3 linked regions of the Homo sapiens genome follow. The protein of the gene in region 3 interacts with the protein of the main gene of each other region in a biochemical or structural test. Each region holds a gene or a part of one and is shown on either strand. Other genes may lie near its edges.

What was found.
Region 1: of the proteins of DDX3X (region 3) and TRIM25, one has a biochemical effect on the other in vitro, tested with the Homo sapiens proteins (one study listed by BioGRID).
Region 2: the proteins of DDX3X (region 3) and USP9X form a complex in vitro, tested with the Homo sapiens proteins (one study listed by BioGRID).

The regions. Positions count from the first base shown.
Region 1 is NC_000017.11:56,900,319-56,904,147, reverse strand, and holds part of TRIM25 (E3 ubiquitin/ISG15 ligase TRIM25), read left to right. Parts: intron 1-2,569; coding exon 2,570-2,729; intron 2,730-3,829.
Region 2 is NC_000023.11:41,088,445-41,092,273, forward strand, and holds part of USP9X (ubiquitin carboxyl-terminal hydrolase 9X), read left to right. Parts: intron 1-3,829.
Region 3 is NC_000023.11:41,344,162-41,347,761, reverse strand, and holds part of DDX3X (ATP-dependent RNA helicase DDX3X), read right to left. Parts: intron 3,524-3,600; coding exon 3,363-3,523; intron 2,583-3,362; coding exon 2,438-2,582; intron 2,359-2,437; coding exon 2,214-2,358; intron 1,534-2,213; coding exon 1,352-1,533; intron 1,258-1,351; coding exon 1,140-1,257; intron 904-1,139; coding exon 750-903; intron 451-749; coding exon 311-450; intron 123-310; coding exon 43-122; 3' UTR 1-42. UniProt on the Homo sapiens protein: Multifunctional ATP-dependent RNA helicase. The ATPase activity can be stimulated by various ribo-and deoxynucleic acids indicative for a relaxed substrate specificity.

The sequences.
Region 1 (3,829 bases), on a different chromosome or scaffold from region 3:
AAGCATCCCTGAGACACACGCTGTATTAGTTTTCTGAGCTGGGCAACAACTTACCACAAATGTAGGGGCTTCAAAAAACACATATTTATTCTCTCAGAGTTTCTCTGGCTCAGGAATCTGGACATGGCTTTATGGGTGGCCTGCATAGGGTCTCACCAGGCTACAGTCTGCGAGGGATGGCCAGGCTGTTTCCTTTGGAGCTCAGGGTTGTCTTCCAGGCTCATGTGGTTGTTGGCAGAATTTAGTTCCTTATGGTTGTAGGACTGAGGCCCCCCGCAATTTCCTGCTGGCTGTCTCTCAGATTGATAGCTGACTTCTTCAAGGCCAGCATGAGAATTTCTCCTCTAGAAAGATGCAATCCCTCTTTTAAGGTCTTTTACCTGATTAAGTCAGGCCCACCCCAGATAATTGCCCTTTGATGAACTCAAAATCAATTGATTTGAGATGCTAATTACACCAGCAATATTCCACCCCCTTTGCCACATGACATAACCTAATCACAGGAGTGATATCCTATTTCATTCACCGTCCTGCCGATACTGAAGGGGAGGGCATACTATAGGGTATGTACATCAGTCGGGGTCGGGGGCTTGAGGGCCATCTTAGAACGTTGCCTGCCACTCACACTCCACCTCTTCCTCCCATCCTTCCTCCAGCAGCTCCTGGAAGTGTGTGTTAGTAGTCCCTTTTGCATTGCTATAAAGGAGTACCTAAGACTGAGTTATTTATTTATTTTATGTATTTATTTTGAGATGGAGTTTCACTCTTGTTGCTCAGGCTGGAGTGTAGTGGTGTGATCTTGCTCACTGAAACCTCTGCCCCCAGGCTCAAGTGATCCTCCTGCCTCAGCCTCCTGAGTAGCTGGGATTACAGGCGCACGCCACCATGCCCAGCTAATTTTGTATTTTTAGTAGAGACGAGATTTCACCATGTTGGCCAGGCTGGTCTCGAACTCCTGACCTCAGGTGATCCACCCACCTCGGCCTCCCAAAGTGCTGAGATTACAGGTGTGAGCCACTGCGCCCAACCAGACTGAGTAATTTATAAAGAAAAGAGGTTTATTTGGCTCACAGTTCTACAGGTTGTACAAGCATGGCACCAGCATCTGTTTGGCTTTTAGTTAGGCCTTTGGTGAGGAAGGAAGCTTTTACTCATGGCAGAAGGTGAAGCTGGGAGCAGGCATGTCACAGGGTTAGAGAGGGAACAAGAGACAGAGGAGGAAGTGCCAGCCTCCGTTAAACAACCAGTTTGTGCAAGAACTCACCTGTTACCATGGGGAGGGCACCAAGCGGTGCATGGGGAATCCACCCCCACGACACGAACACCTCCCACCCTGCCCCACCTCCAACACTGGGAATCACATTCCAACATGAGATTTGGAGGGGACAAACATCCAGACTGTATCAAAGTATCTGTCTAAAGCATGGGCCCCCTGCTGTTTCTGGCCTCATGTCCCTTAACATGGCCTGCAGGGTCCTAGGTGACTGGGCCCCGCCTGTGCCAGCAGTCTCATCTCATATCATCCATCCCTGGCTCATGCCCTATGCACTCACTGTTCCCCAGACACAGTGGGTGTGGGTGGGATGCCATGCTGGGCATTCTTGCCTAGTGAGTCGTATCCTTCCAGGGCCTTGGATCCCATTGCCATGCCGTATCGGTGTTCCCAAGCATGCCACACTGTTTCTACAGTAACATTGGGTGATGTTGTTTCAGATGTGCATTTTTTCATGGCTGTTTTGACTGTAAGCCCATCTCTTATTACCCCCATTCATCCTCCTGCCAATCTGACCAGCACATAGCAGAGTGCTTGGCATATAGTGGTGTGCCCCATTGATTGAGTGACCTGCAGCTATACCTGAAAGACCCAGATTCCTTGTTCAGATCAGGGGGTGGGGAGACAGTGCAGGAGTGAATGGGAACCTTGTCTCTGTGCACTGAGGCCTGATGCGTGCCTAGTCTGGATGGCGTTAAGTTTCATCCCAAGTGTTCATTCCTGTCTGTTGGAGCAGCTGCCCCGAGCTCTCGAAGGATCTGAGTGCACATCTAGGCTTCTTGATACTGTACAACCCTATTTTTCTCAAAGTTTGGGACTTCCAGGAAGACCCTCCCTTCCCATAAGATATTCCCTGGCTGCAATCCACATCCCTTGAGATGTCCCTGTCTGTTACCAGAATGTGTGATTAGAGCTGTTCCCCTAGGATTGGGGTGGTCCTGAGTTTCCTGTGCTTTTCCACCTTTAGCTGGAAAAGTGGAAAGAACATTGTCCTGGGGGATCGGAAGATCTCAGTCCCAGCTGTGTCTGTGCCCCTAGCTGGTGGAGTTCCTGCCATGTCTAGACCTCAGTTTCCCCATCTGTAAGATGAGTGACCTCTGGGGTCCCCTCCAGCTCCAGATTACTGTGTCTTCAAGTGTCATTTAAACTCCTGGTGACCTCTGGCCTGTAATTTGAGAAGGCCAATTGGACTTAGCACTCTTGGGCATAGGGGAGAGCCTCCTGGGGTTGGTGAGGACTGAGCCCAGGTCCCCGTTTCACCAGAGCTGCCTGCACTAACCCCCTGGCATGTTCCAGAAAGCATCAAAACTGCGAGGAATCTCAACAAAGCCAGTCTACATCCCCGAGGTGGAACTGAACCACAAGCTGATAAAAGGCATCCACCAGAGCACCATAGACCTCAAAAACGAGCTGAAGCAGTGCATCGGGCGGCTCCAGGAGCCCACCCCCAGTTCAGGTGACCTTAGCAGCCCCCTATGCTGCCCCCTGTGGAACCCTGCAACCCGATGGGTCCCCTAAATGTTTTGGGATGGGAGATTGGGGCGTGATCCCGAGCACTGGGGCCTGAGTTTCAGGGCTCCTGAAACATCCGCCCTCTGTCTGGAGGCTGGTGGGGAGTCTGCTTCATCCTGACATTTTAGGATCTTTCCTAAAGCATTTTTGGGGACTTGATGTTAATGCTTGGACTTTCTGGACAGATAGGCTCTTTTGGCCTGTGATCTTGAGGCCAACTTGGATGGGTTTTGAATAAGCTAGGGCTTGTTATTGTGTTTGGTGGGGGAATGGCCCGTTTGGGGGAGAAATCTAGAATTCCTCTTTGACACCCCCTTTTCATCACCCCATATCCAATCCATTGCCAAATTTCACTTCTTTCAATCTCCTGACTCAGTCTGCTGATCCTAGCACTGCTTGCCTGTTCTCCATTGCCATCACCTGTCGCCCCATGACTGTAGCAGCTTCCTAAACCCTCTGCATCTGCCGCTGCAGCCAGAGAGGGATTTTCATGATGCAGAGCTCATGTCCTGGGACCTATTCTGCTTTGCCCTCTCACTAGGCTTCCTATTACTCCCTGATGCAGACCAAACCCTTGACCCTGGTCTAGATGCCAGGTCAAGCCCTGTTGGTCTCTCTCCAGCCCCAAGGCGCCCCCCACTCTCCTCTGGTGCATCTCTCTGCATTCAGTTCCTCAAATATGCAAAACTTCCTGCTACAGGGCCTTTGTGTTTGCTCTTCCCCACTCTCCAGAAGGCTTGAACTCCACCGTCTTCACTAATTAACTCCTCTCACCCTTCAAAGATCAGCAAAACATTACATTTATAGCCAGCCTCCCCTGCCACTGCTCCCACTCCTCAGACTGGGCCCAGGGTCCTTGTCATCCTCTTGGGACTCTTGCATGGGTAGTATCGCATTCTTCCTTGGGATCCCCGTATATCTCCCTCATTAGGTTGTGATCTCTGTGAGGTCAGGGGCTGCGGCTTATTTATTTATTTATTCAGGATCTTGCTCTGTCGCCCAGGCCGGAATGCAATGGCGTGATTATAGTTCACTGTAACCTCA
Region 2 (3,829 bases), 260 kb from region 3:
TTAGTTGGTCACACAACAAGTGTCTTTGAGCTTATTTTTATTTAATAAGATCAATTTCTAACGTTTTAGTTTCAAAATTTTAGTATTAAAACCAATCTTTGTTTAAAACAGATGTTAAGAATTAGTTATTTGAAATATCTAGCAGTGTGTGTTAATGGATTAGTGTTCTTCTAAGTCTTTTGGGCAGTGAAGGTGAGGGGGGTCTTATCCTGAGATTGAGTTAGTTGATTTTTATTCTGAAAGAACGTATTACTTTTTATGGTAGCCTACATTATGTTTCCCCTCTTGTAGGTATGTTTTCTGAGTCTTGAATTGTTTTTCTTTTTTTTTTCAAAAAGGGAAAAAACCGGATTTTAGTTGTCATTTGGTTCTTTTAGGAGCTGTGTTTTTGAAAGCCATCCTGTGTATTGCTAAGTTCTTGTATTATTTTAACATAGAGTTTAACGTTAATATTTGGGAAAGAGTTAGTGCATTGGACCTCAACCCTGACTGGACATGAGAATCACTTGGCGGGGTTAAAAAACAACCACAACAAAAAAACTGATCCCTGGGTTCCACCCCCAGAGACTGATTAATTGGTCTGATAGGGAGCCTGGGCAAAGGTATATTTTAAAAGCATTGTGGATGATTCTTACATGCATTTGGAGTTGAAAACCACTGGGCTATTGTTTTTATCATGTTGTTAGAACTTTCAAGTGGATAAATAAGAAAATGGATTTTTTTCTCAATTGTTTTCAGTTATTAGCATGATTATCATTTGAGCATTAATTGTCTGTCAGCACTGTTAAGCATTTTCCATTTATTGCCTTACGATGGGTCTGAGGTCTGTCAGGTTCAACCAGTGGTGCTTCGACTACTGTGCTATGTTAGTGAAATGACACTGATTGCTATTTTTAAAAAAGCATTTAGAGCTTTTGGTTTGTTTCTCGTACCAGAGTAAGTTAAGATATAGTTTAGTTTTTAAGACTATCAAGATAGTCTCCAATTTGATAAATATCTTGGTTGCCCAAGGGAGATGTTAAAAGCTATGTGGCAAATAGGTTTCTCCCCTTCCATATATCTTCCAGCGTGCTCAGGGTGATAGTTTAGTTGGTGCGTTTATGACAAAATATTACACAACATTCCTAAAAGGTGTAGAAACTATGCATTTGTCTCCTAGTAATTTATTTAAATGATCCCACAAATTACCGTTTAGTGTCACATGAAATTCTGTTATCTCAGTTTGAGAATTTAGAGTTTTATTTGTCTTAGTCAAAATCAGTTTGATTTTGATTAAGCGTTTTGAATTTTGTGTTGTTTTGGGATTGATGTATAATTGTTTTATGGAACGAATGAAATAACAATAACAGACATTTATTTGGAGTTTCTGTCTCTTAATCCCCTTGGTCCATTGGACCAAATTCTGCATGGTGGGGGCATGGCAGCAGGGAAGCCTATAGGAGTTTAGGATCTATGAGGGTTTTTTTTTTTTTTTTTTTTTTTTTTTTGAGACAGATTCTCACTCTGTCACTGAGGCTGGAGTGGTCACGGTTCACTGCAGCCTCCACCTCTCCTGGGCTCAGGTGATCCTCTCCCCTTAGTCTCCTGAGTAGCCGGGACTACAGGTGCTCCCATGCCTGGCTATTTGTATTTTTTTTCTCTTTTATAGAGATGGGTTTTGCCTTGTTGCCTAAGCTGGTCTTGAACTGCTGGGCTCAAGCTGTCTGCCTACCTGGGCCTCCCGAAGTGTTAGGATTCCCGGCATGAGCGACTGGGCCCGGCCCTATGAGCATTCTTAGTGTGACACAAGATTCCCCAAAGATCTTTTTGTTAAATTATAGAAAATGAGACTATAAGGATCATGAAAAAAGTTGATGTAATAAGGAAAAAGACTTAAAACTTCTAACACTTACCTATATTGGGCATTGAATTTATAATTTATTGTGGATTATAAAGTGATGACCATTGTAATATACTTTTAAAGAATAACTTGTGAAAAAGTATATTGTTAGGATGAGATCGCTTACCTAAAATTTATTCTTCAAAGATACTCATGCTAAATCTTGGTGTCTTCAACGTGTGTATACACACATATCTTATATTTGGCAGCAAATGGATTTTCAATTTTATTCTCAATCACTGCCTAACAAGGATTTTCTACCACCTCTGTGTATCAATCATCTGTGGAGCTTTTTCAAAATATATATTTGCTCTATAGGTGAGTCTGATGTGTAACCAGAGGTTTTTTTTTGCAGTCCCTTTTAGGGAAAGGGGAGAATTGAGACCCTTTGCATGTCATGTGTTCCACCATTAGGCAGCAGTACTCTTGTTTGAGTTTCGTTTTGTTAGTCACACAGTCAAAAATTCCAGACTGAAACACAAACATGTAGTGAAAAGCTCAAACACTAGAAGAGACAGGGATTCCACACTCACATGTATTATATACAGTATATGTGCACATATATATCAAATTTATTGTCACTTAGCACCTTCTCGGTGTTACGGTTCCAGCTCTACTATAAACATTAATATCTGTTAAGACATTTGTTTCCTTTTTAATCCGTTCAACAAATACTTCTGGGGCATCTGCTGTGTGCTAGGCACTGTTCTAGAGATTACTGTTGTCTAGAAGCTAACATATGAAGTGAGGTGGGCTGGACTAGCTGATCTCTAAAGTCTTTAGTGCTAGTTTTCTGGCATTCTTTTATGTACCTCGTAGGAGAGATTGGATTAAGTTGTTATTTAAAAAAACTTTGTTATGGTATATGCCAATTGAATTTTTTTTGTCACTAAATAGAATTTCATTCTGAACTCCAGTTTTCTCCAGTGAGCCCAAATGTCAAGTATAGTAGAAATAGGTTCTTTTGGAATTCTTGGCATACTGGCTTTAGGAATAGCTGTACTTCTGATGCTGTTAATTTTTGACCAGAAATTACATACTCTGGTGTCACCCCTTACTCCTGCCATTCCTTTGCTGTATTGATGCTCTATTATCTCTATACAGTGTGTTTTTCTATTTAATTTACTTTGTTTAGGTGTTTTGATTAATTTTGTCCTCACAATTCTATCTTTAAGGTTAGTGGCTTTCATTCTAAGTCAGTGATAATATCCTTAGCACCTAGAAAGTGCCTGGCATATAGACATTTAGTAACTGTTGGATGAATATAGTTTATCACATTCTTGCTATTTTACTTATTTTTTGCTAAATCTTTTTACTTCTGGGAGTCACTTTTCTTACTAATCTCATTACAATGAGAAATCCTGGAAGAGATCTCAATTCTTTCTAGTCAGACCCTTCATTTTTCAGATGAAAAAAATGGCTCAAAGAGGTGAAAGGTGAAGTAACTTGACCAAGATAGCATGCCATAGACTACCTTCTTTATGAAGCTATATCTATATGTGTCAAATCACATTAATTATTAAATTCTCTGTAGTCACTCATAAAATTAACATTAAACTGTCTCCCTGGTAATGGATAATAAGGTCAGGGATTCTGTCCTTTACCTTTGTATATTACAGAGCACCTAGAATAATACTGTTTATAATAACCATTTGATTACCTGAATGGGAAAATCTGGGGCAGTATTTAACTTGCAGTACCTCCAACCTCTTGTACAGAATTGATTCATCTTCATTTTATGGCACCCTACAGTTTATTCTTATTAATCATGTGAGCTTTGAACACCATGTTAGTCAACCATAATCAAAGGAATTGTTTTCCTTGGGATGAGTTTGAGCTGGTGATCGTGCATATTAGATCCCATCTTCTACAGAGCCTGTGAATTGGGTGGAAAGGAAAAAGGGAGTGGCGAAGCCTCCTGTTAGTATCCTTGATGTCCATTTTATTCCT
Region 3 (3,600 bases):
CATATTAGCTTGTTTGGCAGGGTGACCTACTGCAAAGCAGGCTCAGTTACCCCACCAGTCAACCCCCTGGGAGTTATAATTTCCTCCATATCCATCACTGTTGTAAAAGCCTCCATAGCCACCTAATGAGAGATTTAAAAAGAGAGAGAAATTAATGAAGTTATCCATCATTAAATACAATCCTTCCCTTACGTAATTTGCCATCAAGTTTCTATAGTGCTGAACTTAAATTGTTTAATTAGGCTTTGAAAAAGATGACTAAAAGGAAAAAAACCCTTCCCAAAGCTATGAAGTTACAGATTAACACTACCTCCACCAAATCCTCTGCTGCTACCGTGGCCACCTCCGCCACTGCGGCTGCTGCTTGCGCGGCTGCTGCTGAAGCTGGAACTGCTGGCACCGCTACTTTGTCGGTAGTCTCTGGCACCAAACCCTCCACTAAATCTGCTACTATAAGAAAAAAATTATGTTGGTTCACATGAAGATGAAATTCCACTAAAGTAACCTAACTCTTTCCTAATGACCAATTTCTAATTTTTCCATTCAAACAATTCCCCATCCAGCCATATTTTCCCCAACAGAGTGTCACCCATTCTAATACAACCCCTTACCAAAGAATCTAGGAAGCCTAAGATGATTAAGCTTTTTAAATACTGTACAGTTAACCTTGGACGTTATGCATGCAGAGGAAACACTATGAACTGTAAGTGAACACCCATTCCCCTCATTATATACTATTTATACCTCACCTCTTAGAACGTCCACGACTGCTACCCTTGTAGTGGTGTTCATAAGCCATGTTTTCTAACCAAGACGGCACTTCTTGTTTAGCTTCAACAAGAAGATCCAACAAATCCTTAGTAATATTTATGTTCCTCTCGTTAAAGAATGAGGTTGCCAGGCCTAAAAGAGTTCCCAAAAAAGTATATAAACAAAGGTCTTCCATAAAGTAACTTGCTACTATTCTTACTTTCCTACGTAGAAATATTTAAAATATTACCACGTAATATTTAAACAAGTGCTTTGAGCAAAATCTTTGTCACTTTCATTGTTAAAAATGTATTTTAGATCCTAGCAAGTTCTTTCCTGCACACATCACAGCAAAAAACAATGAAACCATCAAGTAATCAAATACTTACCAAGGTTTCCTACACGTCCCGTACGACCAATACGATGTACATATTCTTCAATATCACTTGGCAAGTCAAAATTGATAACATGTTTCACATTTGAAATGTCCAGTCCTCTTGCTGCTACCTGGAAAATAACTTTTATGAGATATGGCCCACTTAAAAGAAAACAAATACTTGAACATGCTCAATTTGAATAAAAGAAAGATGTTTATACATACTGCTGTAGCCACTAAAATTGGGCTTTTTCCTGAGCGGAACTGGTGAAGGGCCTCTTCTCTATCCCTCTGAGAACGGTCTCCATGGATGCTGGTACATGCGTATCCTTCATGGTATAAGAAATCCTCCAGAGAATCTGCACCCTTTTTGGTCTCCACAAACACTAAGGTCAGTGAATCCTTGCCTGTCGTTGAAAAATTATAGGTTTTTGTCACTAACATGGCTTAGTTCTCTTTGCACTTATGTATGCACAATTTTAATGTGTCAATTAAAATACATATATATCTTCTTAAAAACGGGCTTTCAACACAGCATGTTTTGAATTGAGGAGGAAAAGTAATAAAGGTAATCCAAATACATTTAAGAGATGGGGGTCTCACTAAATTGCCCAGGCTGAGAGTGCACTGGCCATTCGCAGGTGCAATCATGGCATACTACAGCCTCAGCCTGCCAAGTAGCTGGGACTACATGCACTGTACCACTGCACCCAGCCCAAATGGGTTATTACCAGAGCAATTAAATTATTCATAATTTTAGCTGGGTGCAGTGGTGAGTGCCTGTAGTCCCAGCTACTCTGGAGACTGAGGCAGGAGGATTGTCTAAGTCTAGGAGTTCTGGGCTGTAGTGTACTATGCCTATCAGGTGTCCACACTAAGTTTGGCATCAACATGGTAACCTCCCGGAAGCAAGGGAGCACCAGGTTGCCTAAGGAGGGGTGAACAGGCCCAGGTCAGAAACAGAGCAGGTCAAATACTCCCATGCTGATCAGTAATGAGATCACACCTGTGAATAACCCCTGCACTCCAGCCTGGGCAACAAAGAGAAACCCCCATGTCTAATAAAATAAAAAATTCATAATGTTACCTGTTGCATTTAGGAGGTCAAGCAGAAATGACCGTTTGTCTGATTCTTCCACCCAAACTACTTTCTGTGTGATGTTTTCAGAGGTAGAGCCAACTCTTCCTACAGCCAAGAAGATATATTCATCTAAGAAATCACGAGCCAGCATCTGAAAGAAAAAAAATTTTTATTATTACCTGAGATAAACAAATTTCTAAATAAATAAAATTTGCAACATCAAACAGTACCTGTATTTCCTTAGGAAAAGTAGCACTAAACATCATAGTGTGGCGGACACCCTTTGGAGGCATAGTATCTTGTTCGACTATTCTACGAATCTGAGGCTCAAACCCCATATCCAACATCCGATCAGCTTCATCTAACACCAAGTATCTGTCATGTCATGAAAAAAAACAAGCCTGAGTTTAGAATTTGAGGAGAAATCAACATGGTTTTAGTATGGCTGTTAGTATAATTACAAATACAATTGTATAGGTTATTACAATTATATATTCATTAAGATGGTGCCTCACACTGCATAATTTTACAGACACAGCACAGGATTCTTGCCACTACATAAGTCATTCAAGATTACACAGTCAAATTAGCCCATCCTAGTTGACTGTCCCACGAGCTGATCATTGTTGTAAGTCTCAACCAAGATGTTACTGATTTTTCAACATTAAAATTACCATGAACAAGCTTTTTGTGAAAGTTAGATGTCTGAAATACATCACTTCTCAGCCTTAACATTTAGACAATGTTAACATCACCACAAAACTAATGGGCAGTAACTTTAATACTGCATCCCATACATTTAAAAATTAACATACTTGGCCGGGTGCGATGGCTCACACCTGTAATCCCAGCACTTTGGGAGGCCAAGGCAGGCGGATCACCTGAGGTCAGGAGTTCGAGACCAGCCTGACCAACATGGAGAAACCCCGCCTCTACTAAAAATACAAAAATTAGCCCAGCGTGGTGGCACATGCCTGTAATCCCAGCTACCTGGGAGGCTGAGGCAGGAGAATCGCTTGAACCCGGGAGGCAGAGGTTGTGGTGAGCCGAGATCGCGCCATGGCACTCCAGCCTGGGCAACAAGAGCGCAACTCTGCCAAAAACAAAAGAACAAAACAAAACAAAACAAAAAAACAAAAACAAAATAAAACATACTTGCAAAAGTCTAATCCAATCTTTCCTCTTTCCATCATATCCACTAGACGTCCTGGAGTGGCTACTAACAAATGGCATCCACGTTCCAAGTCTCGAATCTGCTGACCAATATCGGCACCACCATAAACCACGCAAGGACGAACTCTAGATCGGTATGAAAACTATAAGCAAAAAAAATGTTATGAACTTCAAGGTCAAAATTTTTACATGTTCATAAAACATTTAATTAGAATCAATG